2 separate regions of the Homo sapiens genome follow, and region 2 is linked to region 1. Evidence: fine-mapped expression QTL. A gene starts in region 1. The other region holds a variant in brackets. All regions are shown on one strand. Distances are from middle to middle.

Region 1 (15,734 bases):
TTGCAGATGGTCTTTCCAGCTCCTTAAGAGACCTTGCAACCAGAGCCCCATACCATGTGGTGGTGCAGACCCTGCTGCAGGACCCTCCACGGCACCTAGAGGAAAATCGACCTCCTTACCATGGTCCTCATGGCCCTGGGTGATCCAGACACCCTGGCCTTCCTTCTTGCCAATCCTGAGACAAGGCAAGCTGGGTCCTGCCTTAGATCATCTGCCCTGGCTGCTCCCCCTGCCTGGAAGGCTCTTGCTGCTATAGGCAGGGGGATGCCATGTGCCAAGTCTCCAAGACAGGAATGAGTTTGGCATGTATTAACAACTGTCTGGTGTAAGTGGAGAGCAGAGCAAGAGAAGGTGAGAGAGGTGGCCAGTCAGATCCTGCAGGCCTCATATTCCAATTTAGGGGGTCTGGATTTTATTCTAAGTACAACGCAAAGCTCTTTGAGGGTGTTAAGCCTCCGAGTAAGGTGACCTGAGTTACATTTTAAGAAGATCACTCTGGCTTCTGTGAGTACAGATTAGAGAGAGAGCATAAGTGGATGCAAACAACAGAAAAGAGCAGTGGGGAGGAAGAGAGCAGATTCACCATGTATTCTGGAAACAGGATCACCTGGAGTTGCCAAAAAAGAATCACGGTAGTGGGTGAGGAAAGGAGAGGAATGGAGGGTGACTTCTAGGCTTCTAGCTTAAGGAACTAGGTGCATGTTGTTGCTAACTGCCGACATGGGAAGAGGCAGGAGTTGACACAGGGTTAGGGGATGAGAATCAAGGATTCTGATTCTCTCTGATTTTCCTCTTTTATTTCACCATCAAACTTTGCCACAGACAGGCCTTCCATGCCTATCATACGGTAGGCAGGCTTCTTCCTGCACTTTTAGGAGTCCCACTAAACAGTTCAGAATGGAGGCCAGAGGCCTTTCCCCAGACCTCATTCTCCCCAGTCTCCCTCTGCCTTTTAACTTGGATAGTTTCCAGATGAGAGGACAAATCAAGACAGAAAGCAGAAATATGTTAACTTACATGGACCTTCACAGACCTCCACATATGATGCATAAACCATGCTATATTCAGATTATCTGCCAATCCACAGCCAACCTGCAAGCCACCCCCACCTCTCATTGCGCCCTCATGCCGGGCTGGCATCCCTTCCTCCCCACCATCCATACTGGATGTTCTCCACCTGACTGGAGCTGATTTCCTCTTCCTCCGTGGCTTTAACTACTGCCCCTCAGGGCTGAATCTGGCCCCGGCCTCCCTCTAGTTCAGTTCCACATTCTCAACCATCCACAGAATACTTCCAAGGGGACATGCAGTCTTTACACTGAACGGCTGAAACTGAAGGAGCCCCTTTAAAAGCAAAGAGCTCCTCTCCATTCTGTCCCATCATCCCCGTGGCCAGGCAGTCTACTACTCCAGCCTTACTCTTTTAAGTGGCCCTTGCATCTCTCCCTTTCAATTTCCACTACCTCCACTCTAACCCATGCTCTGTCCTCAGTCTTTCCTCCCAACACATCAATACGATGCCCACCAGCATTCCAGTGTCTCTTAAACAACTACGGGGCTGTAGTGAGGGCAGATATGTATGTGGTTCATCTATGAGGCCCCAGCTCCAAGCAGAAATGAACAAGCTAATTATGCTTTCCCTGTTCAGAAGCCATCAGGGGCTCCTTGGTGTGGATGGGATGAAAACAAACACCTTAACAGGCCTCTAAAGCCCTCCACAATCAGGTCTAATCCTCCTTTCCAGTCTTGTCTTCAATGACTAGTTGATTTGGGAGCCTAACTGGCCTCTTCAAGTCCTTTTCTCCAGCCTTACTGACTGTTGATCACCTCCCTTTTGAAAAGTCTTGGGCTTTTCAATATTTGGGATTTTGTGGATGCCATTCATCCACCAACTCTCTTTTTTTTTTTTTTTTTTTGAGATGAAGTCTCACTTTGTTGCCCAAGCTAGAGTGTAGTGGTGTACTCTCGGCTAACTGCAACCTCCGGCTCCCAGGTTCAAGCGATTCTCATGCCTCAGCCTCCTGAGTAGCTGGGATTACAGGCACATGCCACCATGCCCAGCTAATTTTTGTATTTTGAGTAGAGACAGGGTTTCACCATGTTGGCCAGGCTGGTCTGGAACTCCTGACCTCAAGTGATCCACCCGACTTGGCCTCCCAAAGTGCTGAGATTACAGGCGTGAGCCATCATGCCCAGCCCATCCTCCACCTCCCTGTCTATCCACATCCCAGTCAACTTTCAAAGTTAAATCAACTCCCCCCTTTCCCACTGAAGTCTCCCTGGACTATCCAGCCCCCAGTGGTCTCCACGTCTGCATGCAGCAGCCCATTTCCACCCTCACCATTCCTTTGGTCAGTATGATCTCCTGTGGCATTTCTTCAGTTGTGAATCACTCATGCATCGTTATTTCGCTTTTTACAATCTTGATGTGTGTGCTCCAACAAGACTGAATGTTCCCTGGGGGCATCACAGACAGGCACTGCAACCTCATCACCTCACACGGCTCTTCCACATAGCAAGGCTTCTGTAAATATATCTTGATTTACAAATCAGTCCAATGTGACACAAATAGAGGCATCTGCCACACTCCAACAAAAGAAGAGTGAAAAAACAGGATAGAAATGTCTTTGTTTCTGTCTATGCCTGATGAATGGTGAGTGGGTAGAAGAGAGCATAGATGTTCAAATGAAAGCAATTTGACAGCATCTGCATGGAGTACCATTTAACCTCGCCTCCTACTGGGCAGGTATTCATAACAACTGCCTCACAATGTCAGCCACTGCTCCACGTTCCCAGGAGAGGGCCCATTAAGAAAGTCACCAATTCATTTCAGCTTGGCTTATAATTAATGCAGCAACCTCTGGCATCAATAACCTATGGATTGGCATATGAGTAGGGCATAATTTACAATCTCTATATAAAATGTCATTTTAAAGACTTGTGGTCTTGTCTCAGGTAATTTCAAACAAAATTTTTAAAAAATTTTTACTCAATAGGTGTCCTCATTGCCACTGCCATCTCCTCATATTTTCCCCACGCCAATGCTGGCCCCTAATCTCTACAAAAAAGCAAGAGCAAGGAATGGAGGGAGGGAGGAAGACGAATGATGAGCAGGAGAGGATCTTAGAGATCTAGGACAACTGGTACCCCATTTTACAGATGAGAAAACTGAGACCTCCTGATATTGTGGGACAAGCACATGGATTTGGTCAAAATCTATTAAAATCCTGCCGCCTCCATTTACCGTGTGATCTAACCTCTCCAGGCTACTGTTTCCAGAACTGTAAAAGGCAAATAACATCCCTCACGGGCTTGTTTTGAGGATTAAATGGATAAGGAGTGTGAAGGCGCCGACCACACATACGTGTTCAAAGGCCAGGGAGTCAAAAGTCAGACCCCAAAACTAGTTTCCTTCCTTGTTGCCTCCCCAGGATTCTTGGAAGAGAATATTTACTGCAGCTGAAACCTCCCATTCATACAAAAAGGACGCTGGAGACAGAGGGAAGCCACTGAAGAAGGCAGTAAGTGGCTAACAAAACCACAACTGCCATCTGTTCTTTGCTTTCTTTCTGAGTGTCTCTGGACAAGGACAAGTTAAATTCAGGAACACTGTTTTCAGCCAGCTGGGCGGGGCTGCTGGAAGGCAGGAGGGATCACCAGGAGGGCAGAGGCTCCTTCCCCAGCCTCCAGGACAAGGATGCAGAAACTGCCCAGCTGGGCAGCAAATACCTTTCAGTCTCCCTCAGTCCACACCATTCGGGTCTCTGGCAAAACATAACAGTTCAGCATGTGCACACAGGCTGAGGAAAGCAATAAAAGGGTTCTTGCAAGGTAAAAAGGATGTGGCTTTTAAACACTCATGCACCACGGAGAGTCCCTTGCCCCCTCCCGCCTCCCCCCCTTCTATTTGGGACACCCTCCATCAAAGCAAACAGGCTTCTCAGGAATCCCCACTACCACCACCCCCAAGCCTCCGCCAGGAGTGAGGTAGCCGCCTTCTGGAGGGAAGCCACTCTCCCCTCCCTGAGGGGCTGTCTCTTGCCCGCTGCACCTTGTAATGGTTCTCCCAGCAGCCAAGCTAAATGACGAAGTTGGCCCACAAAGTTAGAGCAATTCAGGCGACAGCTATTTAACAGCTCAGACGGGGCTCAGCTCAAAGCGCTTCCTTTCCTCCAGGGAGCTGCATTTTTCTAAGATTATTGTTTCTCGGGCTGGCTGCTCAGCTACTCAGCGTCATTTCCCCTTTGGGTGGGAAAGTTCTTTCCTTCTGCATTGATTTTCATTATGATTTAAGCCTTCTCTCCCTCTCATCTGCAGATCTCACAATTAAAGCATAGCATATGGATCACAAAATTAAGGCATATAAACTTTGCATTCAGCTTAGAACTGTGGCTCGGAAGTCCTGAGTGGTAGAAAAACACACGCAGAAAAAGAAAACCTCTAGGTCTCAGCATCTTGTCACCACTGGCTGAAACACCAGCAATAAACATCAGCTGAACAGCCAGCAGGGTGACGGGTGGGTGCAAAAGCTTAACAATGGCTATATAAACAGGGAGCTGCTCTCCAGGGACTTACAGTCTAATACAGGCAAACAATCCACATAATGGAATGCAAACGCGGTTACTCAGCAGTGAGAAGTTGAACTCTGCCAGGAAGAGAAGAGCTGGAAATGGCCCACAGGGAAGAAAAGGACATCTGTGGCCCTTGCTGCTGACATCAGTGTATTTGGAAGTCCCAGGGGCCAGGCCCTGACTACCAGCATCCCCATGGCACGAAAGGCCTGCAGGAAGCTTCTCCAACAACCAAATGGAGCACGTTACTTGTAAGACTCAGGGCTTGTTAGTGACAGTAGCATGGTGCCTCCCCAAACACAAAAATGCTGAGGGAGAGCCGGGATGACCATCTGTCAGGGGTGCTGGAGGGGCAGACATTTGCATGGGACACATTGCAGACTGGAGGACCTGTGGAGGCCCTCTCAGCATTGAGACCTTGCTGCCTTGTGAAATGAGTGATAGCATCTAGTGATACAGGAGGACCCATCCAAAAGGCTCCCAATCCTGGTTATCAGAAAACTCAGACTCACTGAAATCACTGAACACTGGTTTTCTTATGTGTTGTTTCTTTTTTACCCCTAAATGATACTGTTTGAGCCACTACCAGAAAAAAAAGCACAGGTCATGCCTAGATCCTTGGCCATATGAGTAGCTTCTAGCAGCTTCAACAGGTGTTCATTTCATCTCTTCTAATCGCACCTTCCTAACATCCCTTCAGAGATTGGGCCTTTGAGCCACTGAAGAGGAGGCACTCCTTGGGTGGTGTCTGTGGGGCACCAGGAGACCAAGAGAACCTACCTAGGTAAGAGAAGGTGTACACTATTCCAACTACTCTCTCGCTGCTTTCTGGGATTCTCACATGTATTCCTTCCAGTACCTCATATACCTGAAGCCTCCATCACTCACCTCTGCAAAGGAATCAAACTGGGAAAGCCACAAAACCAAGACCAGCAGTGTTACCTGCCACACCTGTGAGGGATGTTTGGGTCACATAAGGCCCCAATTCTTACCAGCTGAGTCCTCTAAGCTAGCTGCCTCCACTGTCCCTACCTCTCTGTAATACCTGTAATACCTACCTCTCTCTAGAGATCCCGCCCCTAAGAGAAGGAAAGAGACTCATGTGCCTGCCCCATCCAGCCAGGGCCCCTGCAAGTCAGTGTCCCTCCCACCTATCCCCTAACAAGATGGAGGCCATTCAGCTAAGACAGCCTGACTACTACCCAGAGAAATCTGCCTTCGGCTCTTGGGTGTCTCCTCTGAAATGTTCTCAGTTCTCTGCAGTTCACCTTCTGTTTAGAAAAACTCACAAAATACTACACAGTGTTCCTCAGTTACTTTCCTAGTTGGAGAAAGTCGGGAAATATGTTGTTTTATGTTCTTGATTCCTTCCCGTGGAAGTTAGCAAAACAGCGTATGCTGTAAGTAATCTAAAGTCACAGTCACTCCGGGATGTGTCTCCTACACGTCTTCAGAAGCTTATCTCTCCTCTCCCTTTTCTTACTGTTCCTCGGTTTCTCAATCTTATGCCAGTGATTTAAAAATTCACAAAATAAGGCATTTTGCGATAATGGGAATACTGTTGAATATGAAATTGAGTTTTTACAGGAGAACTTGATTTTTAAAAATCCAAACTTTTTCTTATTTAACTCTAAGAAGCACCTCTAGGTTGGAGGAAGCAAGCTAATTCACGTGCCAGAAAGTCTGCATGAGATGAGAAACTTAAATGAATTGTCAATTATGCAGACAAAAAACTCAACTTTCAGGGAAACTCCAAATCAATGTCCAGTGTTGCAAGCAACCCAGCTTATTTGAATAGCCCGGACAGAGCATATGCCCTGTGTCACTCACAGGAAGGCAAAGGCTAACACCACCACGTTGCTGACTTTGTTCAAAGCACTTTCCATTTATTTTTACTTTCATTTTGTCACATCATCACTAGGAGGCTAGAAGGAACAGGGATCATCACTTTCATTTCACAGATGGAGAAAGTGAGCGCAAAGAGACAGCAGTCCCAAGGTCATAATGGTATTATGGTTAGAATTCCACTCAGTATGTGGCATATTTTTCCAGATCATAAGAAAGAACTGGACACAAAGGTAGCAGGGAGAAGAGGTCAGTTCCTTCTCTCTGCGTGGGACAGGCGGTGGCTACCACGGAGCAACAGTTCATTGGGAAAGGAAAGGGGAGGGAGGAGGCTCAGGGATGGTCCTGTATCAGCCTGTGCCTTGCAGGGGTTCAACCATGCAACCCCAACCGCGTTCCTTTGCTTTTAAGTCGAACCAGTAGAGCGTTTTGTTTCAAACTACGTACATCCTTTGTCCTTTACAATATCCCGTCCTAGAACCCCTTAAAAATCAGTTATTTAGATGAGAAAGTCGAGCCCTGTACCTGGAGAGGCCAGTTCTGTATAGCGGAAAAAATGAAACTGGGGACCGGCTGGCCAGATATCGGAGGTGGGAGAGATGCTTTGCAGTCTTTTTCCCTTTCCTTTCCATTTTTTTTAAAGTGGGGTGGAAGAGATACAGGGTACCCCATAGGAAATAAGTTTTCTTCCAAAGGGTTGGAGGAGAACGGGATAGTCACACCCCTCAGTCCAGCCAACTGCGAAAGCGTCCCTCCCTACCCGCCGACCCTCAGGGTCCCGCACACGCCGGGCGAGGAGCCCCCACCCTGGGTCGCGCCGCGCGGAGGGGCCTACGGCTGGGGATGCAGCCCGGGGCGCGCCCACGCCCCCAGCACAGACTGGCCAGGCGCCAGGTTCCCGGCTCTCACTCACCCGCGCTCCCGCCTCTGGGGGCCCGGCCGGAGGGTCCCCGCTGTGTCGCGGCGCCTGGCTCAGGGGCCCTGTAGCTGGGGCCGGGGGTCGCGGGCCCGCGGCGCTCCCGGGGCGGCGTGGGCGGCGGCTCGCGCTCCGGGCGGCGCTCCAGCTGCAGCTCCAGCCCCGCTCCCGCGAGGGGCGCCAGGCTCAGCGCGCGGCGAGCCGGGGAAGGCGGCGGGTCCCGCGTCCCGGGGGCCGCCGGCGGCAGCAGCAGCAGCGGCAGCAACAGCAGCAGGAGCGGCGGCGGCCACCGCGAGGCGCGCGGCGAGGCCATGGTGACGGCGCCCGCCCGCGCTCACATGCCCGGCGCGCGGGGCGAGGGCAGCGGGCAGCGGGCAGCGGGCGGCGGGGGCCGCGCGGGGCCGGGGAAGTGAGCGGAGTGAGGCTGCGAGCGCGCTCCCCGCCTCAAAAGTTATCGGGAGCCGCGGGAGGGCTGCCGGGGGCCGGGCTGGCTGGGCGGAGGCGGCCCGCGGCGCCGCTACATGCTAATTAGCCCGGGCGGGTCGCTGGCTGGCGGGCGGCTCCTCCTCAGTTGACATCACCGGCCCCGCGCGGCGGGCCCGGAGGCGGGGAGAGGGCAGGAAGGGGGCTGGGGCCGGGCGCCTGGAGAGCGGCCCGGCCCGGGACAGCGGGATGAGGTCAGCGGAGCCACGGTGCTGCAACTTTTGTCACACACATGCTCCAGAGTCTTCTGAATCGGGCACCACCTACCCAACTCCTTAAACGCACAAGAAGTAGGTGAAAAGCAGGTCCTGGGTAATGTGATTAGCACCAGACTAGATTATCCCAAGTGCTTTGATAGGAGAGAGAAAGGGAACGGTCCCCTGGTACCCAGCCCGCGCTGTCACCGCCGTTATTGATTTGAAGTGTCCCCACTCCCACCCCCACCTCCCCTTCTTCAGGCCCCAGGGCTGGTGATGAGCTCGTGTTTGCCAAACCTAACACCTCACCCTCCGGCCAACGCGAGAATCCGAGTATCCCCCACGCCCTCTCAAGCTTGGATGCCGTTCCCATCCGACCACTGCCTTTGGCTCACACCAGAGTTCTGCAGAGATGTCACCGCGAGGACACCCAAACAGGCTGCAGGGAAAAGAAAACTGTGAATTCAGGCAGGCTAGGGCAAACTCATCATCAGGAAAAGAACTGCAGATCGCAAATTAAACCAAATGATGCCCAGAGAACACAGAATTTTAAATGGAAACCTATGGGGAAAGATTCAAAGATTTCATGTAAACAAATTTTCTTGGTCAATAAAGTTCCATTTGTTTCCATAACCTCTCCCTCCCCAGTAAATGAATAATAAACTGTCTAAAGTTTAGGACTGTAAGCCACCTCATTAAGTGAAGAAAGAGGGGCTCAAATGGGAAAATAACTTGCTCAAGATTCTGAAGGTAGACCCGAAGACGAAATGATTGATCTGTGAATGACCATGTGATATTATTAATTCTGGTCTCCTAATTCAGAGTTTGCAATAATTCGCAAACGGAAACAAATAGTATTGCAACAGAAACAAATGTTGCAGCTCCTTGGGGTTCTTGCGAGTTCTGTTGGGGGCCCCTGTCTGACAACCAAATGCTCGTGAAAATATGAGTATGCACCTCACTGTCAGGCCTGGCTCTCCATCCTATTTCTCTGCTCTTCTCTTTTTCTCTGTCTCCAGATCTCCATGACCCACCTCCAGGAGAATGAGATCGTAGTGTCCAGGGCAGCTGCAGATGGGCCTAGGCCCACTTTCTGGTGACTCAGTACAAGTGAGTCATTTGGCAGAAAAACATAAAGGAGGCTGTGTATAAACAAACTCACCTTAAATGAGAGAATGAGGAGTAAAGATTTGGTTTTATTTTGTTTTGTTTTTAAACAAACCAGCTTTCCAGGGCTCTAACACAGAACTTCCAGGTCTCTCCAAGAAAGTACCAAACAGTAATCTCCCTGAAACTGACTTGGTTTGCTCCCATGGCCTGAGCTTAACTTCTCTGGATGCTGCTCTCACATTAACAGGCAGGACTGCACAGCTGCCCAGACCCAGCCAGACAAGCCCCAACAGACTAGGACTGTGCTCAGAGGTTCTGGTCACTGCCACTCCCTCCCCTCCAAGGAGACCATGTCACATAGTACTGGTTGCACTCCCAGGCAAGTGGAAAGGTTTAAGGGTAGAATGGCCCTTACAGGCTTCTCGTGTGGATTCAGGGATCCTATGAGATAATCTGCCTTCTCTACTAAGACCCAAGGAGTAAACATGTACCTGCCACCTCCCCCCAATCCTCCCCCACCCCCCAATCCCACCCCACTTTAAGTACCACAGGTTTATCTCTCTCTAATCTTCTCTCTGCCTTCTAAGAGAAATGACCGAGTTCAGGGTAACTGTCAGCTAGAAAGGGCTTAACAAGCAGATTAGGAGAGGGACACACAGGGAGAACTTGGAAAGATTGATCAAGGTGTAGATGGATTTCAGCTCTTTTTCTTCTCCTCCTAAGGCAGAACAAGAGAAAACAGCAAGACAGCAAGAGAGAACTGGATGCAGTATAGAACCTTGGAAAGAACAGTTGACTTGGTCCTAGAGCCCTTGCTTCTTTTCTGGCCTTTACCACTGTTTAATTGTGTGATTGGGCCATAGTTTCCAATCTCTAAAACAAAGATGGTCCTGGATGATTGCTAAGGAGTGTTCTAGCTCTGATGTTTTAGAGTTCAGTAAAGAACTTCTGGCACAGTAGCAAGGAGGTATGAAATAGGTATCTCCCATCCAAGTACTAACCAGACTCAAGCCTGCTTAGTTTCTGAGATCAGAAAATATCAGGCACTTTTAGGGTGGTACAGCCATAGACTAAAACAGTTATCTAAGAACATTTGTAGTGTTTTCTTCCCAGGGATATGAAAATCCAGACAAGATTCTTGATCATCTCAGATAGCTTGAGAGGTCCTATCTGGAGCCAGGGTCATAAATCAGACGACTTCTCAGACCCATTCCAGCCCTGGGAATCTGTTGATCTAGGATAAAACAGGTGGGAAGACAGCCCAGAACAAATTCCAGGACTGAGTGAGTTAACAGGCATTCCTAACCTCTCCACAGGTAGGAGTGGGGGCACCCCAATGTAATTGACAGTGAAATCAGCAGGGAGCCCAGTGTCTTTGCCACCTGAAACTTGATGTAGTCAGAGCTTTCGCCAGGGGTTTCCTGCCTCTACTTGTGTTAATCAGACTAGGCTAGGCTATAGTAACAAATAGGCCACCCAGATGCAGCAGCTTAGCACCATGTGTTTCATTCTTGTTACCTTAACAGCCTTAGACACCGATGTTCAGCTCAGTAGGCTGTGTGAAGAAGCTGTCCATTGAGCTGAACATCAGTGTCTAAGGCTGTTAAAGGAACAAGAATCCACATTATGCATCCACGTTATGGTGGTTCTGCCATACTCTAGTATGGCTTCCAAAGTTGCTCTGGGAATTGGCATCCCAGTCAGCCAGAGGTGAAAAGAATGTGGTGGTGTGAGCAGAGGAGGTTTTGGTGGGCCCGGTCTGGAAGTGCCTCATCTCCTCTTACATTCCACTGGAGAGAGCATGGTCACATGGCTCACCCAACTGCACAGGGGGCTGGGAAATGTAGTCTAACCATACAGGCAAAGAAGGGGAGAAGGGATTTGGGTAGACCGCTAACCATCTCTGCCCTACCTCTAGATATCAGTAGGGCAGGGAAAGAAAGGGAGAGTAAAAAGATTCATCTTTTGGTCTCAGTTTCCTTCTTTATGAGGGTGTTGAATCAAATGATCTCTCAAGGCCCATCTAATCTAACATTCAGTGGTGTGAAGGGGCCATGAAATGTCCTTCCACACCAAAGTGAACAAACTGTGCAGGTTCCTGCCACAGCAGACCTGCAGCTTGAGGAGGCCTCCTCTGCTGATTGGTCTGACTGGTAGACTTGACAGAGAGGACCTTGGGTTCTCTCTAAGTTCTGTTCCAAAGCGATTCTCATTTCTTGGCCAAGTCAGGTGATCTCTATTGATCTGTCTCCTTAGCTGCCTAGCGGGGAGAAAAATCATTTCCCTCTGCTGCCTCTTGGGGTTGTCCTGAGGATATGATGAGATCACTGACCAGAAGGCACCAGGAACTCTTCTGACTAAAGTGCTCTGCATGATGCCCTTATTGTAGCCAGAGCCTTTTATAACACTGCATTCTAACCTGGCCCCACGGTGTGCCCAGTTCCTGAGGATGGTGCCTGTGCAGGATTTCACGTGGGTTGGCATTGCCATGGCTGGGATGCAGTGCCAGATGCACAGCAGTAATATCCTACGGACACTCAGGACTCTGGTGACTACGGGTCCCTGAGGGCTGACAGATCAGTTAATAGACCCCTGGATTGAGTTTCACCTAGGGACAGGTAGGCTGGGCCCACAGATCACTGTCTCCACTGGGGCATCTGGCCGGCTTCTCTGTTATCTGCTCATCACCCTATTAAACCCTGAGTCTGTTTACTCATCCTCTCATCTGCTTGTCCCCTCCCACTCTCAATCTACAAGGTGCTTTCTGGGATGCTCTGTGCTTTATTCATCTTTATATCCTCAAAATCCAACATAAGACTTTCTTTTATTTAGTCATTCAACAAATATTTACTGAGTGACTACACTGTGCCCAGCACTGTGCTGAGTGCTGGGCAAGTCTGTGACATCGTAGAGCTTAAGGGTTTGGAGGAGACAGACAGTAATTAAGAGTATAAATGTAAACTTGTCATGTGTAAGTGCTCGAAGGAGAGCACTCAGGAGGGTGTGCTGGGTTTCCCTGTGGACATGAAATTGAGCCCTGATCCGAAAGCTGTGTAGGCTGTTAACCAGGCGAAGCAGAGTGGGGAGAGTATATGCAAAGCACCTGAGGCAGGAGGAAGTGGGATGCATGGAAAGGACTGGAAGAGAGCCATTGTGGCTGAGGTAGAGAGTGAGGAAGAGCATGGAAGGAGGTAAGCCTGGAGACTTTGATAGGAACTAAATCAGGGAGACCTAACAGCTCATTTTAAGGATTTTTTATTTATTTTAAGAGTTTAAGGAAGTCATTATAAAGTGTTAAGTAGAGAAGGTAGAGTACAGTGAAGGTGGAGGAGGAGGAGGAGGAGTTAAGGGGCGAGGGGTGACATGATTTGGGATTGGAAATCATCATTCTAACTATAATAAGAGGAATAATTTAGAAAGAAACAAGAACTCATGCCCGGACTCTTGGAGTCCAGGTGGGAAGTGATAATTCTTGGATAAGAGTAATAGAAGTGAATTCAGAGGAGAATATGGATGTGAGAGATTGCAGTAGGTAAAATCCACCAGACATGTTGATGGACATGGAGGATGAGGGAGAGAGAGAGAGTGGCAAGGTTTCTCAGGTTTCTGGTTTGCATGGGTTGGATGGATGGTGGTACCATTCACAAGGAGAGGGAACGGTGGACAAGAACTATTTGAATCTGCAGACTTGGAACTGAAGGGAGAGGTCCAAGTTTAAGGTTTGGAGTACAAGGGGATGGAATTAAGTAGGGAAGAGAGTATCATAGTCAGAGAAGACAGGCTGAAAATGAGTCCTGGGGGACACAACATGAAATGGCTGGGAGAGGAGGCTGAGCCAGAAAAAAGACTGGAAAGGAGCCACTGAGAGATAGGAGAAAACCCAGGAGAAGGTTACATCACCCCAGCAAAGGGAAGGAGATCCTGGCTCACAGTGTGCAATCCTGCCGAAAGGTCAAGTGAGGTGAAGACTGAAAATAGCCATTCGTTTTAGCAACATAGAAGTCACTGGTGATCATAACAAAAGTGACTTCAGAGGAGTGTTCAGAGCAGAATCCACATGGAGAACAGTGGGAGGAGCGAGAGCTGAGGAAGCCGAGCTGGTGGAGATAACTTTTCAAGAGAGTTTGGCTCTGAAGGGGGAGAGTGAGCTGGGACAGTAAGTACAGGGGAATGAGTAGAGGGGAGTTCTTGTTTTTAGGGGGAACATTTGGACGTGAAAATGGTCTGTGTGGGAGGGAGAAAGTCAAAGGTGATGGGATAAGGTTTCTGAGAAGCAGGAGGGGATGGACTCCGTAGCCCAGGTGGACAGACTGGCCTGGGAGGAGGAAAAGAGGAGAGCGTGGGGCACTGCAGGGCCTGGACTTCCCTCTGGGGACTTCAGTTTTCTTGGTAAAGTAGGGGACTTGACTTGTAAGAGAGGCTACTTGCTGTGAGTGGAGGGAATGTAGGGGCGGGCCTGAGGGATTTGAAATTTTGAGAAACACCAATGTATTCTTTTCCTAGAGCTGCTGTAACAAAGTCCCACAAACTGGGTGGCCTAAAACAACAGAAATGTATCCTGTCACTGTTGTGGAGGCTGGAATTCTGAAATCAAGATGTCAGCGGAACCATGCTCCCTCTGAAGGCTCCAGGAGAGAGCTCTTCCTTGCCTCTTCCTAGCTTTGGCGGTGGTTGGCAATGCTTGCTGTTCCTTGGCTTGTAGCCCCTGCCTCAATCATCATGTGGTCTTCTTCCCACTGTGTGTGTCTGTCTTCACATGGTCTTCTTAGAAAGACGCTGTTACTGGATTTAGGACCCCTTATAATCCAGTCTGATCTTATTTTATTCACATCTGCAAAGACGCTATTTTCAAATAAGGTCACATTCACAGATACCAGAAGTTAGGGCTTGAACATATCTTTTGGGGAGACATAATTCTATCCATTATCATTAAGACATTTAGAAATGGTTGTAGAGAGGGAGAGAAATGTCCGAGCATGCCCAGCGCTGTCACGGGCCCATGGGGACTGGTGAAGATAAACCAATAGTGAGAGTATGCTGCGGCATCAGCTGCTCTCCCACTTGCTCCTCTCTGCTGACCGGCATCCTTGGGCAGAGCTGGGGCACCCCAGCCCTCTCCTGCTGCAGGGCAGGTTTCCCTCCCACAAGAACAGAACCTTGTGACCTCTCTTGACTCTTCCTCCCTTCCTGCCTCAGCCTCCATCTCTGCCTCCCATTCAGTCCCTTTCTCTGCCCCAAGGTACATGAAGAACTCTTGAAGACAGGAGCTGCAGAGCTGGCCCCACAGCACCAGAGATGTCACAGAAGAGCAGAATTCCAGCCCTCCATGGCACATGGGCTACATCTGCACTATTTTGTTCAGAGCTCCAAGAAGCAGGTGCATTGGGATTTTCACCAAAGAACGAAAGGAATAAACCCATCTCCCTATTTTTAACCCCCCAGAAGAAGCCTTATTCTCTCCTTTCTGGAATGTCAGGACCAGTGTCATTTTGTCCAGGCTGCATTGACCTCTTTGCTGGACCCCGGGCATAGGGAGCCCTTGCTGCTTCTCCACCCACCAGTGCTGAGCTCCGGGGGTGTTTGCCTTGCAGGTCCAAGGTGAGAATGTAAACACTGCAATTCCTCTGAAAACTGGCTGGAACCTCCTCCAGGGAGGAAGGGTTGCTCATGGGCTGGCCAGGCTCCCAAACATCATACACAGCAACCCGGAGCTCCAACTTAACACAGCTTGGGGCAGGTCCTCAAATGACCTTCCGTTTCTTGTCTGCCCATCTGAGAGGACCATTCCATTCCAAACAACATTCCTTTGATAAAAGTGGTTACACACTGTAAACATCAATGAGCCAGGAACATTCTCCGGTGCAACAGGATTCTGATAAAGCAGTCCTATTTTGCAAAACCTTCCAGTGTGAAACATCCTCCCCACAGCAAGCAGGGAAATTCCTGGGATGCCACAACATTGGGCAGAGTGTCCAGGGCCCCAGGGAAGGAGCAGAAAGTCTAGAGGTGGAGCTCCCATTGTGGGCAGAGGGACCTGAGTTTTCAATCATCTGTTCATCAGTCACTCACTCAACAAATATTTGCTGAACATGTCCCAAGCGCCAGGCTCTGATGGAGTCACTGGAAATGCAGTGTTTCCACATGACTGCAAAGCTCCCCTGACTTTCAAAAAGCAGCAATGATTTCCTCTCCCCACACAGTCCAGGTTGACAGTCGGGTGCAATATCCACACGCCTCTCTACCTCACTCCCTCTGTGAGTCTGGATGTGTTCTTCTTCCTCTCCAGCCCCCTGGGCCCTCATTCTGTTGGCTTTTCTGCTGTCACTCTCTGTTCGCAGGTATCTCTTCTTGAGTCTGTTTCTGGGTCTCTCAGTCTCTATTCTTCAAGTCTCCCTTTGTGTCACCAAGTGCTTCCCAGCCTAGCCACTCCTCTACCTCTCCATCAGTCTGCCTTACTTCCAATCAATTCATCCCCATTTTTTTCTCCTTCCCTCTTCTGTTTCTTCTCCTTAAGTGACTGTTGATACAGAACTAGATACATTTTTCTTAGGTTGGTGGAATAGACTTTCACATTCTCTGGTGTTTAGTTCTAAAATTGATTGAAAAATGTTT
Region 2 (15,734 bases), 89 kb after region 1:
TAATTACAGCCCAAGCTTCCATCCACAAAAGAAGGCTCCTGCCACTCTGATGAGTCCAATGAGGTCGCCCGCACTTCACACAGCTTCCAAGATTCATAACTTCATAAGAAAAATATTTTTTTTAAAAAATAATGAAACGAAATCTCAGGGAAGCACAAGGGACCCTTGGGAGTCCAGTCAGGACTTAAATCATTGTCAATTGCTTTATTTTGCCTGAACACAGAATTTGTTCTGGCATATTCAATCCCAAGTGCTGTACAACTTTTCTGAATGGTTTGGCGTTTTTGTAGCTGGCCCTCCCCTCATTAACAAAAAAGCAATAATAGCTAAGTTAACTTTAGCTTATCCGCTGGCTGACCTCACTGATGAGTCTTAAGGAGGAGAAAACCAGCCCAGCCTGCCTTGGAACCGAGCTCAGCCAAGCTGGACTAATGTGCAGGTCGGAAAGCACATCTGAGCGGAGGGCTGTGTGTGCCCGGCAGGCCCGCCTCGCAGGACAGAAAACACTTCATCAGGCATATTCATCTCCAAGGGCCCAAGGGCGGCCCTGACACAGGGGAATATTTGGTCACTGGGCCTGAAGGGCTTTGCCCTGGCCAGCCTGAAGGTTCAGAGGGATTTCAGGCCCAATAGATGAGTCACTGGGAAGCCTTTTCTCTGCCCATCCCTTCAGCAAGACCCACAGGCTGAGATAATGAGTCACTTGGCTCCCTCGTGGGCCTGCCTCAGTTGCCATCTCTTGCAGGGCCAATGAGAAATGCAGCCCTGCCACATTCACAAAGTGCACACTCACGCTGACACACGCTCACGCTCACACGCTCACGCTCACACTCACGCTCACACTCACACGCTCACACTCACACTACTGCTGGCCCAGCCTGCTCTGGGCTGAAGCCAAGCTCAGTTCTGAATCTTGCTCTAGGAAATAGTCTTAACTTTGCAAAGAACGCTATGGACAAAAATATGTGTCAATGCTTTGTTTACAATAATGTAAAATCGGGGGAGGGGTCGGGTGCAGTGGCTCACGCCTGTAATCCCAGCACTTTGGGAGGCCGAGGCAGGTGGATCACTTGAGATTAGGAGTTTGAAACCAGCCTGGCCAAAAGGTGAAACCCCATCTCTACTAAAAATACAAAAATTAGCCGGCCGTGATGGGGTGTGCCTGTAGTCCCCGCTACTCTGGAGGCTGAGGCGAGAGGATTGCTTGAACCCAGGAGGCAGAGGTTGCAGTGAGCCAAGATTGCACCACTGCAGTCCAGCCTGGGCAACAGAGCAAGACTCCATCTCAATTTTTTAAAATTTAAAAATAAATAAAAAATGAAAAAATCAGAGGAGGTTCTAAATGTTTATGTGGAACTGAGACATTTTAAATGCTTATAAAGAGTTTTTAGTATAAGAGAAAACTGTCCATGTTATATATACTATATGCTAATTCAGAAAACTGGATGCCATAGTATAAATACAAAAAAAGGTGTATTAATCTATACATGTAAGAAACAGCTAGAAGAAAACACACCGAAATACTAACTGTGGTTGTTTGTATAATGCAATTACAGGCAATTCTTGTACTTTCTTTTTTTATTTCTACAAAACATCCACATTTAAGTTAAAGGGCTGAGTGCAGTGGCTCATGTCTGCAATCCCAGCACTTTGGGAGGCTGAGGTGGGAGGATTGCTTGAGCCCAGGTGTTTTAGACCAGCCTGGGCAACACAGAAAGACCCCTTCTACAAAACACACACACACACACACACACACACACACACACACACACACACTTAGCAGGGCATGGTACTAGCTACTCAAGAGGCTGGGGTGGAAGAATCACTTGAGCCCAGAAGGTCAAGGCTGCAGTCAGCTGTGACTATGCTACTGCACTCCAGTTTGGGTGACAAAATAATTTTTTTAAATGAACATAATCTACTTGTCATCAAAAAATATCTTTTAGGAAAACAAACAAAACATCCCACAATTGAAAGCCCACTTTCTCGTCAGCTTTTCTATGTATGAAGAGCTTTTCTTTCTTTCCGTTTGTACTCTGTTTCCCAAAATGACTTGAGTGGCTTATGAGAAAAACATAAACAAGACAGGAAAAATAAAATAAGGACCAAAGAAAGAAAGAAACTGAGCAAAAGAGAGAGAGGGTGAGAACACCCCCAGTCGTACCTCCATGACCCACAGTCTGAGGCCTTATTCAGAGAGAATTTTCTAACTCTTTGACCAAGCGCACTGAGGCAGGGCATTGGATCTGGTGGCCCATCCCTCACATGGGCCACTTTCCAGTGGACAACAAGGAGCCCCCAAAGCTGGCACAGTGGACCCTGCCTCATTTCCTCTGCCCCTATTTTCCCAGGCCCTCATGACTTGCACCCCTCACCTATCACCACCCCACCTCACGGTCCCCTGTCCTGAGCCAGTCCCCAAAGAGTCTTGCTCACTGGTCCCCATCCTGCCTGCTGGGGCCTGGGTCTCTTTCCCACACCCTGAACCTGGTGGCCCACCCAGACCTCAGGCATGGTTGACTCTCTGTTGGGCTTATGCAGAGTGGGTGCCCAGGGGAGGCACTCATGTCTCTGACTGGCCGGTACTGGCTAGCTAAGCATGGTGTGAGGTCAGTGGGTCACACCCAGGGTAGGGCTGAGGTCCATGCCGCCTGCCATGCCCTCCGACAGTGGCTCTTAATGCCTGACTTGCTGATGCCCAGAACAAAGGTTCCTAATTCTTTTAGTTGCCCCCATTTGAGAGTCTGATGAATACCATGGTCCCTGTCCCCATAGACACCACATTTTGCATACCATTTTGGGGAAGGGCAGATTTCTGAAGCCTCTCTGGAGAGCATGGACCTTAAGGTTCGAGACCTCTACTCTAGCAGCTACATCTGCACGTGAGATTGTCCCGCCAGGAGGCACCTACAACTTCCCAAGGCCTGACTGCCACCATGCCCTGCCTCAGAGTGGACAGCAGCCCTGAGAGTGACATAGCCAATAATGTCTTCATGCCACAGTCCTTGCCAAGCAATGGCCAAGACTGTGTGCACAGAGATTGTGCAGGTCACTCCAAGGACACCACAGGGCAACCTCACTTCTGAAAATAATGCTGAGCGACCAGTGACTGAACCCTTCCTACGTGCCAGCCACTGAACAACAAGACCTTACAATGTCATACTTGTACGATGACTAACTGAGGACACTGAGGCTCCGGAACGTGAAAAAGCTTGTCCGAGGGTTACATAGCCAGATCTGCCTGTATTTCACCCACTGCCTCTCCCGGTGGCAGAAGCCAGGCCTCTCTCCAGGAGGTGGGTTCCCAGGCCCTGGCACTGCACCCCCTTACAGCACAGGTTGCCTTTCAGCCCCAGGAAACATGCCCACAGAGATCATGGCATCTCCCCCGGCCCCATTTGTGTAGGGCAGACAGGAGTCCTATCCTGTGGAACACCATGTGCCTACCGGTATGCAACTGGCTGGAGCTTACACAGCTGGGAGGACACAGCCTGTCCTGGACCCCACATCTGAGTGAATTCAGGCCTCCATCTACCACACTGACCCTCTGTAATCCATCCCAAAGTCATTCCCCAGGAATTTCCTTTTTTTTTTTCTTTTCTTTCTTTCCTTTTTTTTCTTAAAGAGGCAGGGTCTCGCTCTATCACCGAGGCTGGAGTGCAGTGGCACTATCGTAGCTCACTGCAACCTCAAACTCCCAGCCTCGAGCAACCCTCCCACCTTGGCCTCCCAAAGCACTGGGATTACAGGCGTGAGCCACCACGTCTAGCCTCCCCAGGGATTTCCAACACTTGTTTTTTGACCTCAGAAGAGTCTCTTTGCCTCTCTGTTGGGCTTTCAATTCCTCTGCTGGTGAAACTGAGTCTTGTGGTCTGGGGTCCTGTCATCTGACATCTTTCAACTCTCGAAGGCCTGGGATGCATGGGGCCTGCAGCTGCTGCGTGTGAATGGATCTGGGTTTGACCTGAACATCTGTTTCTCTATCCACGGAATAAAAATACTTTGGTCCAGTTTGAGCTGTATGCTTTTAGGAAGAACAAAAACAAAAAGGGGGGTGGGGTGGGGTGCGGGTAAGACAGAGAACAAATGACAACAAGACCCAGGCAGGAACAGGCAGAGGGAAAGTCCTTGAAGCTCTGTCTGCAGAAAGGCTTGATCTTTCCACCCGGAATTCGGGTAATTCAGGCTTCTTGTGATGCGGCCAGTGGGCTGTGGCTCTTCAGGGCCCACCATCTGCTCCCAAGGGGTGCTCGTGGGAGCCTACCCTCCTCCCCTTAGCCAAAGGCAGGCAGCGGGGGTCACTAGTGGGACTGAGAACTGCTCCAGCAGGGCTGCTTGGGGTGCCCAGCAGCCGGGCATGGGACCCTTGCCCTGGGTAGGCGGCTGCTAGGGGCTCTGGGTGGCACCTGCGGTGCCCCCGACATCCCCTCCCCCTACGCCGCTGGGGGCTGCTGAAATTAGAAGAGGGAGTCGGGAAGTCATACCCCTCCCTGTGGGCGTCGGGTTGCACTGTTGACTAACTTAGAAAGCGAGATTTCTAAAAATGATGCTGGGGCTGCAGGCTGCGGGCTGCGGGCTGCGGGCTGCGGGCTGCTGCCGCGGCGGGGGCTTCCGGCGGCGCTCTCTTCTGGGTCCCCCACCCCTGGACCAGCGACCGACGACCAGCCAGACAGCCCTTTCCTGCGAATGGACAATGGGAGAGGCTGGCGCAACCGAGAATAGCCAGCGCGGAGGAAGGGCTCCGGACGGAGCTAGGAGGGTGGGGCTCGGAGGGCGCAGGAAGAGCGGCTCTGCGAGGAAAGGGAAAGGAGAGGCCGCTTCTGGGAAGGGACCCGCACGACGACGCCCGAAGGGCGTCGGGGGAAGTGGTAGGCCCCGGAGACTGCGCGAGGCTCCTCAGCAAAGGAAGTGGGCGCGGCGCGCACGCAAGACCTCGCACCCGGCCTCGCGCGCCGCCTCTGGACAGCCCAGCGCCTCTCAGCACCTGTACCTCGCCAGACGCGGCCTCACGGAGACGGGGATCTGCAGCCAATCCGAAACTGCCTGACCCAGGGGGTCCGCGGAAAGGGGAGGAAGGGGAGTGTCCACGGGCCCCATCCTGCCACTTGTCACCCACAAGAGTTCCTTCCCAAGCAGCCCCATCCTCGCCCGGACACTCACTCAGATACTGCCCAGCCCCAGATGGGCTAAGAGGCACAGAGATGGGCAATTAAACACAGCAGGCCTGGCCTCCCTGGGCTGGGGATGGGGTTTTTCTTCTGGGAGCTGCAAAGGGTGAAGCAGTTACAGGTTATCAGGGAGGAGCCCAGTCAAAACTGAACTCAAGGAGGATAGATTTGGGAGAAGTCCCTGCCATGCTTATCCTCCCTCGGCGTGAAGCACAGGGCCCCCTTCCAGGCACAAGGACCCTGAAGATCTCTGGGTGGAGGAAGGCAAGAACAGTGGCAAAATCAGGAATCAGGAACCAGGGTTCGGGCCCTGGTTATGCGAGGACTCACTGTGGGACTGTAAACAAGCCCTTTTCCCTCGGAGCTTTGAAACGCAAATTTTGAGTCAGCGAGACCGGCATGGGCCAGAGACCCAGCCTTCCTAATGAGCTCCCCGGAGATGCCACGCTCCTGCCTGCAGATCGAACTCTCAGTAGCACAGTACGAGATGATTTTTCAGAACCCTTCTAATTCTGAAGTCTTCCCAGCCAGAAGCCCACTCTCAGGCCTCTCAGGACACACTGTCCAAATACACAGTTGGTTTCCAATGGCAGAGGTAAAATCCCAAACCAGCTTCCATAACATGCCCTCCTCCCTTCCCTGACTCTGTGATTGTTGATACAGGATGTGCTCCAGAACCGTGAAACAAGCTCACTACCACAGTTCCATATGTTAATAAAACCTTACTGGCCGATAATGAGAGATTACATGGAAGGGCAGAGAGATGAGGAAACCTTCATGGTCTAATTCATTGGCCTGTTTTAACAACTGAGGAAACTGAAGTGCAGAGCTGAAGCCAACTGTTCAAAAGACACGCAGAGTCAAAAGGGGAACAGTAACCCTAATTGAGAGTACAGTTTGGAGTCCAGATAGTATCAAGTCCCAATCTGTTGGGCTCTCCCATTGAACTGGGTCATAACAATCCTGGTACAACTATTGGTGTTCAATAAAAGTGTTTTGAAATAGAACTGAATCGGCTGTATTGCGTTGGACTGTTTTGAAATTAAACTGAATCGGGCTGTATTGCTTTGTATTGATCACTGCCTGGAGATTTGGAAGAGGAAATAATGATAGGTTTCGAAGAGGCCCCCAAAGAGTCCTGGGCGTGAGCCTGGAGTCTTCCTCGGACCACAGTCTCCTCTCTGGCTTCAGCCCTATTGACTTTGGTCCTGCAAAGAGAGGGTGGAGAGAGGATGTGCACAGGGTTTCCAGCCTAAGACCCCACCCAGAGAGAAAATACACAGAGGGAGGGCTGGGCATTCCAACAGTGGCCAGAAGGGAAATCTGAAGTGGGGCTTGACCTGCCCAGAGGGCCAGGGGAGTCCCGCCCAGCCTGCCTAGAAAGGAGCAGCCTAGAGCCCTGCCTGGCCATGGGGAGAGCCTCCACCCTGTGGGAGGACTGGCTGTTGTGAAACAGTGGGAAGGACCCCCAGGGCTGGGCAACCCAGGGGATGAAAGGCCAGACTGGGGGATGTCAGGGCAGCCTCCCTGGCCTGGGAGGGAAGGGGCTGAAAGTGTCCCATAACAAGAGCAGCTCCTGCCATGCCCTGCGGTCTAGGAGGGCAGTCCCGGGGCTCTTTCTGAGCTAAGGATTCCTCATTTGTGAAAGGAAAGATAAGCCTTTTCTTCATGAAGAATGGTTTCTAATAACCAAGAAATTGTTCCATCTGCTAACACGGGCTCTATTTTAAATGCTTAATGAA[C/A]CTTTTCTCATAATGGCCTTGGGGTCAGTAAGCTGAGATGAGATTTTTGCCTAGAGAGGCCTACAGCGGAAAGAGCTGTCAAATGCCCAAGAATGTGAAAAGAATCTGACTTGAGGAGACACTAGGTTCTCACCTGGGCCCCAGGAAACAAGAGGCATCTTGGGGTGAGAACAGTGCTGTCTACTTCCGCTGCATACCACTCATTCCAAGTGCTTTACCGTATTAACTCATTGAAGCCTCACAACTACCCTATGAGGTAGATGGATTTTTTTCAGGGAAGGAAACTGAGGCACAGAGAGGCAACTGGGATTCAAACGTTGTGCTGCCACTGCTGCAGCAGTGCTTGTCCAAGGCTGCAGGGAGTCTTGGATGAGTGCCAGGAGCTCCAGCTGCTCCAGCTGGGACCCTGCAGAGGGGTCCAGAGGGACCTGGCCCCAGCCCAGCCCACAGAGCCCCCACTAGCCTACCCTAGAAAGGAGCCCTGAGAAAGGAAAATCTGGCCTCCTTATCTCCTGGGGGAAAGGAATGCACTCTCCCTCCTGCCAGGATAACGGGCTGTTTTAACGGGAAGTCTCCACCCTGGCTGTGGGTTCCTCCCAGCCACCACTTATTCCTTCTGGCTGTCTCTGCCTCTGGCATCCCACTTCCCATGCTTCAACTCCTGACCCCTGACACCCCCAAAATAATCCTAACTCAACTCATGGCCCCCTCAAATCAGCTGCCCCTGCACAGCTCCAAGCTGGTCAAGAAGTCTTCCCTGCCCCACTGTTGCTTGGATATCCTCGCCAGGCAGGCAGCTGAGACGGGGTGGGAGGTCAAGTGACCCCTGCAGGGAAGGGGCAGTCAGTATCAACACACCGATATGTAAGCAGAGCCCCCCTCCTGCCAAGCACCAGGCTGAAAATATTCACATGCTCAGACCCCTTCCCCACCAAGTTCTGAGGCCATGGGCAGCTCTCCCCCACCCCAAGTCCTACCCAAGAAACAAAGCAGGGCCTCCCTCAGAATGCCATGGCTAAAGATTCAGTATCATAGAACTGTAGAAAGTTAGCATCACAGCAGTCTTTAGCCTCAAATCCATTTTACAGATGGGAAAGCTGAGGCCTGAGAAAGGAGATGCCCACGTCACAAAGTTAGCAGCTGCTCAGGGGAGACCAGAACACAGTGTGGCCAAGCCCTTGTCCAATATGTCCTATGGGTCCCCATCTCTCTGCTGTTACTGGCTGGCTACTTGCCTGTTTTTTCCACTAGACTATGAGCCAGGTGGGGGCAGGCACCACGCTCTCTTATTTTCTGGGGTGTCTCTGGCACCTAGCCCCAGGGGACATGCAAAAAATATAAAACATTAATAATAACAAACAATGGAAACAACCCAAATGTCCATCCACAGATGAATGGATAAACAAAATGTGGTATATCGATACAATGGAATGTTATTCCACCATAAAAAGGAATGAATTTCTGATACATGCTACAACACAGATGAACTTTGAAGACCTCATGCTAAGTGAAAGAAGCCAGATGCAAAAGGACAAATGTTGTATAATTCCCCTTACAGTAGCTCCCCTTTATCCACAGGGCATCCTTTCCAAAACCCTCAGTGGAGGCCTGAAATGGCAGATAATACCAAACCCTATATATACTATGTTTTTTCCTATATATACATACCTGTGATCAAGTTTAACTTATAAATTAGGCTCAGTAAGAGACTAGCAACAATGACATAATAAAATACAATTATATTATAATAAAAGTTTTATGAATGTGGTCTCTCTCCCTCATCTCAAAATATCTTTTTTATTCTTTTCTTTCTTTCTTTTTTGAGACTGGGTCTTGCTCTGTCACCCCATCTGGAGTGCAGTGGCACGATCACGGCTCACTGCAGCCTCCACCTCCCACGGCTCAAGTGATCCTCCCACTTCAGCCTCCTGACTAGCTGAGACAACAGGCTGGCGCCACCATGCTCAGCTAATTTTTTATATTTTTTGTAGAGACAGGGTCTCACTTTGTTGCCCAGGCTGGTCTCAAGCCCCTGAGCAGAAGCAATTCTCCCACCTCAGCCTCCCAAAGTGCTGAGATTATAGGCATGAGCCACTGCGCCTGGCCCAAAATACCTTATTGTACTATACTATTTTTATCTATTTTTGGACCACTGTTGACCGTGGATAGCTGCAACTGCAGAAAACAAAACTGTAGATAAGGGGAACTACTGCCTATGAAATATCTAGAATAGGCAAATTCAGAGAGGCAGAAAGTATCATAGAACAGAAGTTAGTGGGGGCGGAGTTTCTGTTTGGGGTGATGACAAAGTTTTGGACGCAAATGGTTAGGATAATTGCACAACAGTGTGAATGTAACTAATGCCACCGAATTGTACAGTTAAAAACGGTTAAAATGGCAAAGTGTGTGCTATGGATATTTTACCACAATAAAAAACAAAACAAAACAAACAAACAAACAATCAAACAAAACCTCAAGCCATTTCTTTCCACAGCACCCTCCCCAGGGATCCTCAGAGATGGCACCCTGCATCCTTGCTTAAGGCCTGGGCTCCTCCCTGCCGTACAGATGTGGGAATAGAGGACAAAGGGGGCTTCCTGGCCAAGGATGGTGGAAGGTGAGGACAGAGCCACAGGCCCTGCCTACTAGTTGTGGCCTCCCTCGGAGTGCAGCGGCATGATCACGGCTCACTGCAGCCTCCACCTCCCATGGCTCAAGTGATCCTCCCACTTCAGCCTCCCGACTAGCTGGGACTACAGGCTGACGCCACCATGCCCAGCTAAGTTTGTACATTTTTTGTAGAGACAAGGTCTCTGTTTGTTGCCACAGGGAACACCTCTTCCCACCACAGGGAGGCCCTTCCTCCACGAGAAGCAGGGCGGGGAAGCTGCCCAGCAAGCCATCTGACCACCAGTCACCAATGTAGGCAGAAATCACTGTGTGCTCAGGGGTTTAGGTGGAAAGGACCGTTGTGCTCGGGAGTTTGCCGACGTCTGGAATCCTTGGGGTTTTACTCAAGGGCAAGGTGTGTGAGAATTTGCAGCAAAGCCGTCAAGAAACACAAAGTGCAGCGTCTCAATATCAAGCACGCCCAACTTCCAGGGAAGACTTCCGCAAAATCAAGGGCGCTGTTGTCCTAGTCCTAGGGTCAACACATGTTCTCATTTTCAAAACTTTCCTGGTCACTGGGACCCAAGGCCTGGGAGCAGCATTTAACCTGCGGTGCCACTAAATGAGAGCCGGCCTTGAGTGAGTGTGCCTTTAACCCGGGCTGCCCTGGGCTACTGCCATATCACCTGACCTTGCAGCTTCAGGCTGCACTCCGCTTCCCTTTGTGGGGCTGGCAGGGGCACTCTGCTCTCAGCCTTCTAGCTCTGAGAGGAGAAAACCAGAAGTGGCCCCTTCCTGTGCCTCTGTGTGTTCCTTTGCAAGCCGTTGTGTGCCTTTTCTGCAGGCGCTTATGGAGAGTGAGGTGTGTTTGTACCATCTCCCCGTCAGATTAGGAATCCTCAAGGTCAGAGACAAGTTCCCTCCTCCCTCCGGATCCCCTCCTCATCCGCAGGTGGCTGCAGTCACTGGGGTGCTGGATGAGTCCAGTGACCATACATCCTGCCCTACATCCTGCCTGGACAGCCTGGGAAGTGTTTTGATGACTGATCAACCCAGAGAGCACGAGGGGAGAGCAAGAGGAGGAGAAAGGATGCTGCTGCTCCTGACTGAACGTGATTGAGGTGCCCCAGGAAACTACCTTGCTATGCAAAGTATGGTCCCCAACCTGCGGCATTGGAACCTTCATTTTAACAAGATCCCCAGATCCTGAAGCACTGCCTTAGAGTATAACCCAGGGCCTCCAGGGACCTACTCTTCCAGGACAAGCAATGATAATGACAATGATTATTTATTGAGCACCTACTTTGTGCCAGGCATGACACTAGGCCTCTTATAAACATTATCTTATTTTATGCTTTGGCAACCTAGCGAGGCAGGCGTTATTACCTGCTTTTCAGAAACAAAGAGAGCAGGTCAGAGAGGTTAACTACCTTGACCAATTCTATGCAGCAAATTATAGCTGAGCTGGAGCTTGAACCTGGAGGTCTGACTCCAAAGCCATGTCTCTGACAACTGTAGTATATGTGATGCAATCTTTCACATTAGGCCAACAAGGACAGCCACTTGCCAACTCGCTATGGGGCCCAGAGATTTAAAGGCAAATGCAATCCCCAGGGAGATGTCTAGAGGCTGCCCCATTGCCTAGTGCTGGCCTGGGGTGTGGGCACCTATGTGTTGGGGTTAGGTCAACCCTGTGGCAGAGGCCTCAATATTTCTTCAAAACACGTCCCTGAAGATGAAGGTGCATGCCTCAGTCCCCAGGGAGCATGAAGATCCAGGCAAGAGGGACATGTAAGTTGGATTGCGAGCAGGCCTGGAAGCTCTAGCACTGGCCTTGTCTGGGCCCTGGAGTGAGGGTAGTGGGGAGAAGAGTGGGGTGGGGGGCCCACGTGGGTCCTTTGTATATTATTTAACTTTCAAATTTGCAATTTGGGGCATCATCTCCTGCCAGCCTCAGGAGGCGGCACTCTCCTGCCAGCTCCACCTCTGGGTTCACTCCCACCCCCAACCCTCGGCCAGCACTCACAGGCTGCTCGCACCACAGAGCCCACTCTCTGCATGCCCACTGTCAGCCCAGGACTTCCTGCCTTGTTCTCTGGGTCTGTAGCTGGCTGCCTTGCTCCCCACCCAAATGTGAGTGACTTGAGGGCACATATCCCACTTTGTGCTTTATACAGACCCACCATCCTGCCTCCTACCCCAGGAGGTACCCCCAAAATGGTGAAGCCAGAAGTGCCTTCAGGGACGCTTCTACAGTCACATGGAGAGTAATCTGCAAATTCCCCACAGCCAGGGGACACCTGCCACGTGCAGTGAGAGGAACACAAACCAGCAGCGGGGGGGCACAGGCAGGATGTGTCGGCCCACCCCTCAGCGGTCACCCATCGCTTCCTCGGAACTCCCAGCTGCTCAGGGCTGAGGCGGGCGAGGCTCAGAAGTGTGGAAGGGCCCTCCCCAGCTGGTGACTGCATGTGGCAGGCATCCATACCCGGAACGCCCAGCCAGGGAGTCGGGCCAGCCCATCCCTCCTGCTCACAGAGTCACAGAGTGGGAGCAGACTCGGGGGTCGAAGCTGGGCAGCGCTCGCTCGCACTTCCTTCTGCAAACTTGACCAGGTCCCACGGCCTCTTCAGCCCATGGCTCCTTTCTCTGATCCCCAAGCCAAAGCCAGCAAATGAGAATAATCCAGTAGAGACAGCTGGGTTTTGGGATCAGGGTAGGGGCTCAGAGCCAGGGGTCTGGGATTCTGGTCAGTCAGTTTTTCTTCATCAGAATCAATCTCAGAACAAGAGGGAGGCCTAAGGCATGCCTGCTGCTGGCCAGGGGTGATGGGGACCACTGCCCACAGAAAGCCTTCTAACAAGGGCTGGATCCAAACAATCAAGGAACAAGGATGCCTAAAGCATTAGTTTCTCATCTAGCCAGAGAAATATTAAATGTGCAACTCACATAATTTTACAAACAAGAACCACCAACATAAAATAAGTGGAATATTGAAAATATTCAACAGGTAGAACAAGTCAAAGAACATGCTTTGCTTCCTATTCAGGCCAGGAAGGGAGAGAAAGAGAAGAAATGGAAGGTGAGGAGGGATGGGGAGATGGCAAAGTGGGGGCAGAGGGGAAAAAGAGAGACAAAAGGATTGGGGAGAAAAAACAGAGAGAGAAAAGCATAAAGGAAGAAAGGATGAGGCACAAAGAAAAGAGGAGGGAGAGCAGGTGGATTTTGGGGAATGCTGGACAATTGGTCAGGCTTGGTCTGCAGAGGCTCAGAAATCCTTACCTGGACATGAGCCTTTGTTTATAATTCTTCACTGTTCTAACCCTGAAAAGTACCTCTGTTCTAATCCTTAATCTTTCCCCCTTCAGGTCAAGAATGCCTTTGAGAATCTGGCAGTAGTTCTGAACCCTGTCCTAGAAAAATACACTTATTTACATACAATTTTGCATGCAACTTCAGGGGCTCAAGGACTCTATGTTAAAAATACTTATTCTAGAAGCTCCACTCTGATTGGGAGACCCATAATGGCCAAAGCAAAAACACCTCAATTGCCAGATGAAACTAAAATGAGGGTGGGATGTGTTGTATTCAAGTCTTCACATTGAGCTTTAATCATACCATTGGCTTCAGTGACAGAATTTAGGGCCTAAGCACCTTCTCCTGGTTACTACCCCAACAGTCATATTGGAAGCAAGGCTGGTTACTCCAAGGGGTCCATTGTGTACATGGATGGTTATTTCGCAGTAAGGGGCCTGTCAAAGACAGGTAACAATGTGTGAGTCAAATTAACCCTTTACAGATCAATAGGATTAGTAAATCCCATATACGTAGTAGTTTCCAAATCTGAATGTACATAAGAATTTCCAGTATGCTTACCTAAAATGTAGATTACTAGTCCAAAATTTGAGAGTATGGATCAGACTGTTTTTCTAATGAGTTTCTAGATAATTCCGATACAGGAAATCTCCAAACCAAACGCTGAGACACACTGTTCTCAGAGAACATTGCAAGCCTGAGAGGCTGAGCTTCTGGTCCCACAGGTCAGCTGATTATCTACTCCTTGCAGTGCGATTCTTGTACACTAGGGGGTAGGACTGAGCACATATACAAGGGCACCGCAAGACGAGGTTTGGACTACTGCATCAAAAAGGCTACCTTTACAGGGGAAAATAGAATGAGCAATGCAGAACATGAAAGGTAGAGTGCCAGGAGAAACCTTCCAAGGGCCTCGAAGACAGTAGTTCCCAGAGCTGACTTAAAAATCATGATAAAAAACTACCTGGAGCACTTCTTACAATCCAGATTCCCGGGCCTCAGGCTATTAGGAAACGCGCTCACACACACACACCAAGTTTCCTCAGGGATTCTGATACACACGCAAGTATCACAACTTGTTTGTTTATGGCACTTCAAGCCCAAGGGTATTTTGATCACTATACCAGACCATTATCATAAAGACGCTTCGAAAAACTAAAGTGCCCTTATAATTCTAAAGCAAAAAACAGTGAACATTACCAGGGTTTTCTTCTTCTTTTCTCTTCCTCTTCCTCCCCCTCTTTCTTTTTCATTGAGGAGGCTAATTGGAGAAGGTGGGCCACGCTGGAATGCCCTGAATGGGTTCCAGATGGTGAAGTCATTGGCCTCTTGGCCCAACTGTTCCTCCCTTTTCCCTGGAGTGCTGTACAAATATTATCATTTTCTGGCTGTGCAGTGACATAAAAATGGTTGAGAGGCTCTAGGTCAGGTGTAAAAGAAACTCATGGAAAGGGAAGAACAGCTCGGTCCAAAAGAAATTGTGGAGATACTTTCCGATTCTCTGCAAGGTGGAGAATCCCAAATCAGATGCCAAGCTCAGCGTGGATTGGTTTGGGCTCATCATGTTGTCCAGTCCCCACTGGCTTTGGCATCTGATCTGGGATTGTGAGGGGGTGCGGTAGGTCTCAAGAGAAATGCTGAAGGGGCAGCCCTGCTTCCGGCTGCTTAGCAGAGTGGTGGCGACAGGGAAACCCAGGCACAGATTGCAGATCCTCCGCCCAGGGAGGATGACCACGATAACAAGACTGTCTTACGTTTATTTAGAATCTTCCTTTGCCAAGGCAATCGTATTTATAGTAGTTGCTCATTTTGAGTATAACTTTTTAAAAACATTTTGATTTTCTGAAATTTGGATGTCTTACAAGCAACATGAGGACTTAATGTAAGGCTTTTTTCCACCTGAAAATTTGGTGTGAATTAAAATTGATGGTGACTTGGAATTGAGGAAATACGTTTTATTACATCATTTAATCTCTAAATAATCTGTGAGGCAGATATTATTATTCTCTATTTTCTAGAGGAGGAAACTGACGCTTAGGTGATTTCCCCAAGGTCAAGGATTGAGAAAGTGGCAGAGCCAGGACTAAAATCCAGGTTCCAGTATTTCTTCCCTGATAATGTCTGAGCAGATTTGTTCATACACTAGGAATTTGGGATTGCAGAGTAATTGCTCCAGAACTGCTCCAAAAACTGGCTGCCACCCACAGTTACTGGGGCAGAGAAAGCAAGAAGTGACTTTCCTTTTGCTTCAAGTAGAAATTTGAGGGAAAAGAAATAGAAATGTATATAGGTTTGTATGGTGGCTGTTTGTTTGCTTTAGGCCATAACAGAAGTCCCTTGATTACTTCAGGAGCTTCAGAATGTACCATGCTCATTCCTCATACCACGATCACCTCTGGTACGTGTGAGTTTAAAATGGTGCTCATTCGGTCATTACAGATTTACTGTTTGAATTTGTTATTTTATTTACTTTAGAATGCTTTTCATTTTTAGCAATCAGGATTCTAGAGTGTCATATCTTTAAAAGTCTAGCATTTTTATTTCTGCCAGTTCAAGAGGATGCAGGAAGAAGTTTAACAGAAGAAACCGTCTTCAAAATAATAAAACCCCAAAATTATTCTCTACAATATCCAGTAAGTGCTGATTTTCTAGAAAACAGTTGGCAGGGGGAGAGAGAGAAGGAACCACCCCTCCCCCCAAACTCAAAGAAAAAATAACTACTTTGGACATATTATTTCTAATCCTTTAAAAAACACTCTTCCAGGAGGGTATTTCTTTCCATTAGACAGATGGACAAACTCAAAGGGTTTCGGTGACTTGCCCACAGCCACACGGCTAACAAGAAGCATGTGTTCTGATAGCATTAATCAGAAAAGCATATATTGCTGACATGGATTCC

The links.
Region 2: its variant is fine-mapped to the expression of HEG1 in whole blood (INTERVAL, PIP above 0.99).

What each region holds. Positions count from the first base shown.
Region 1 is chr3:125,048,246-125,063,979 of GRCh38, forward strand. HEG1 (heart development protein with EGF like domains 1) reads right to left here and starts at 7,752. Exons shown (of 17, transcript NM_020733.2): 1 at 7,330-7,752. The coding sequence starts at 7,645. It overlaps DAGARR (differentiation and growth arrest related lncRNA), which reads left to right and starts at 13,166. Exons shown (of 2, transcript XR_007096044.1): 1 at 13,166-13,278; 2 at 13,626-15,734. It also overlaps the pseudogene RNA5SP137. RefSeq lists enhancers at 3,593-3,722, 8,266-8,315 and silencers at 3,863-3,912, 7,246-7,405, 7,466-7,555, 7,636-8,015.
Region 2 is chr3:125,137,114-125,152,847 of GRCh38, forward strand. All of the region lies in intron 5 of SLC12A8 (solute carrier family 12 member 8), which reads right to left. It overlaps MIR5092 (microRNA 5092), which reads right to left and starts at 14,439; the gene lies at 14,352-14,439. RefSeq lists enhancers at 4,711-5,534, 5,148-5,237, 5,248-5,477, 6,048-7,001, 10,058-10,127 and 5 more and a silencer at 4,468-4,697. The variant C/A (reference allele first, on the strand shown) is at 6,911.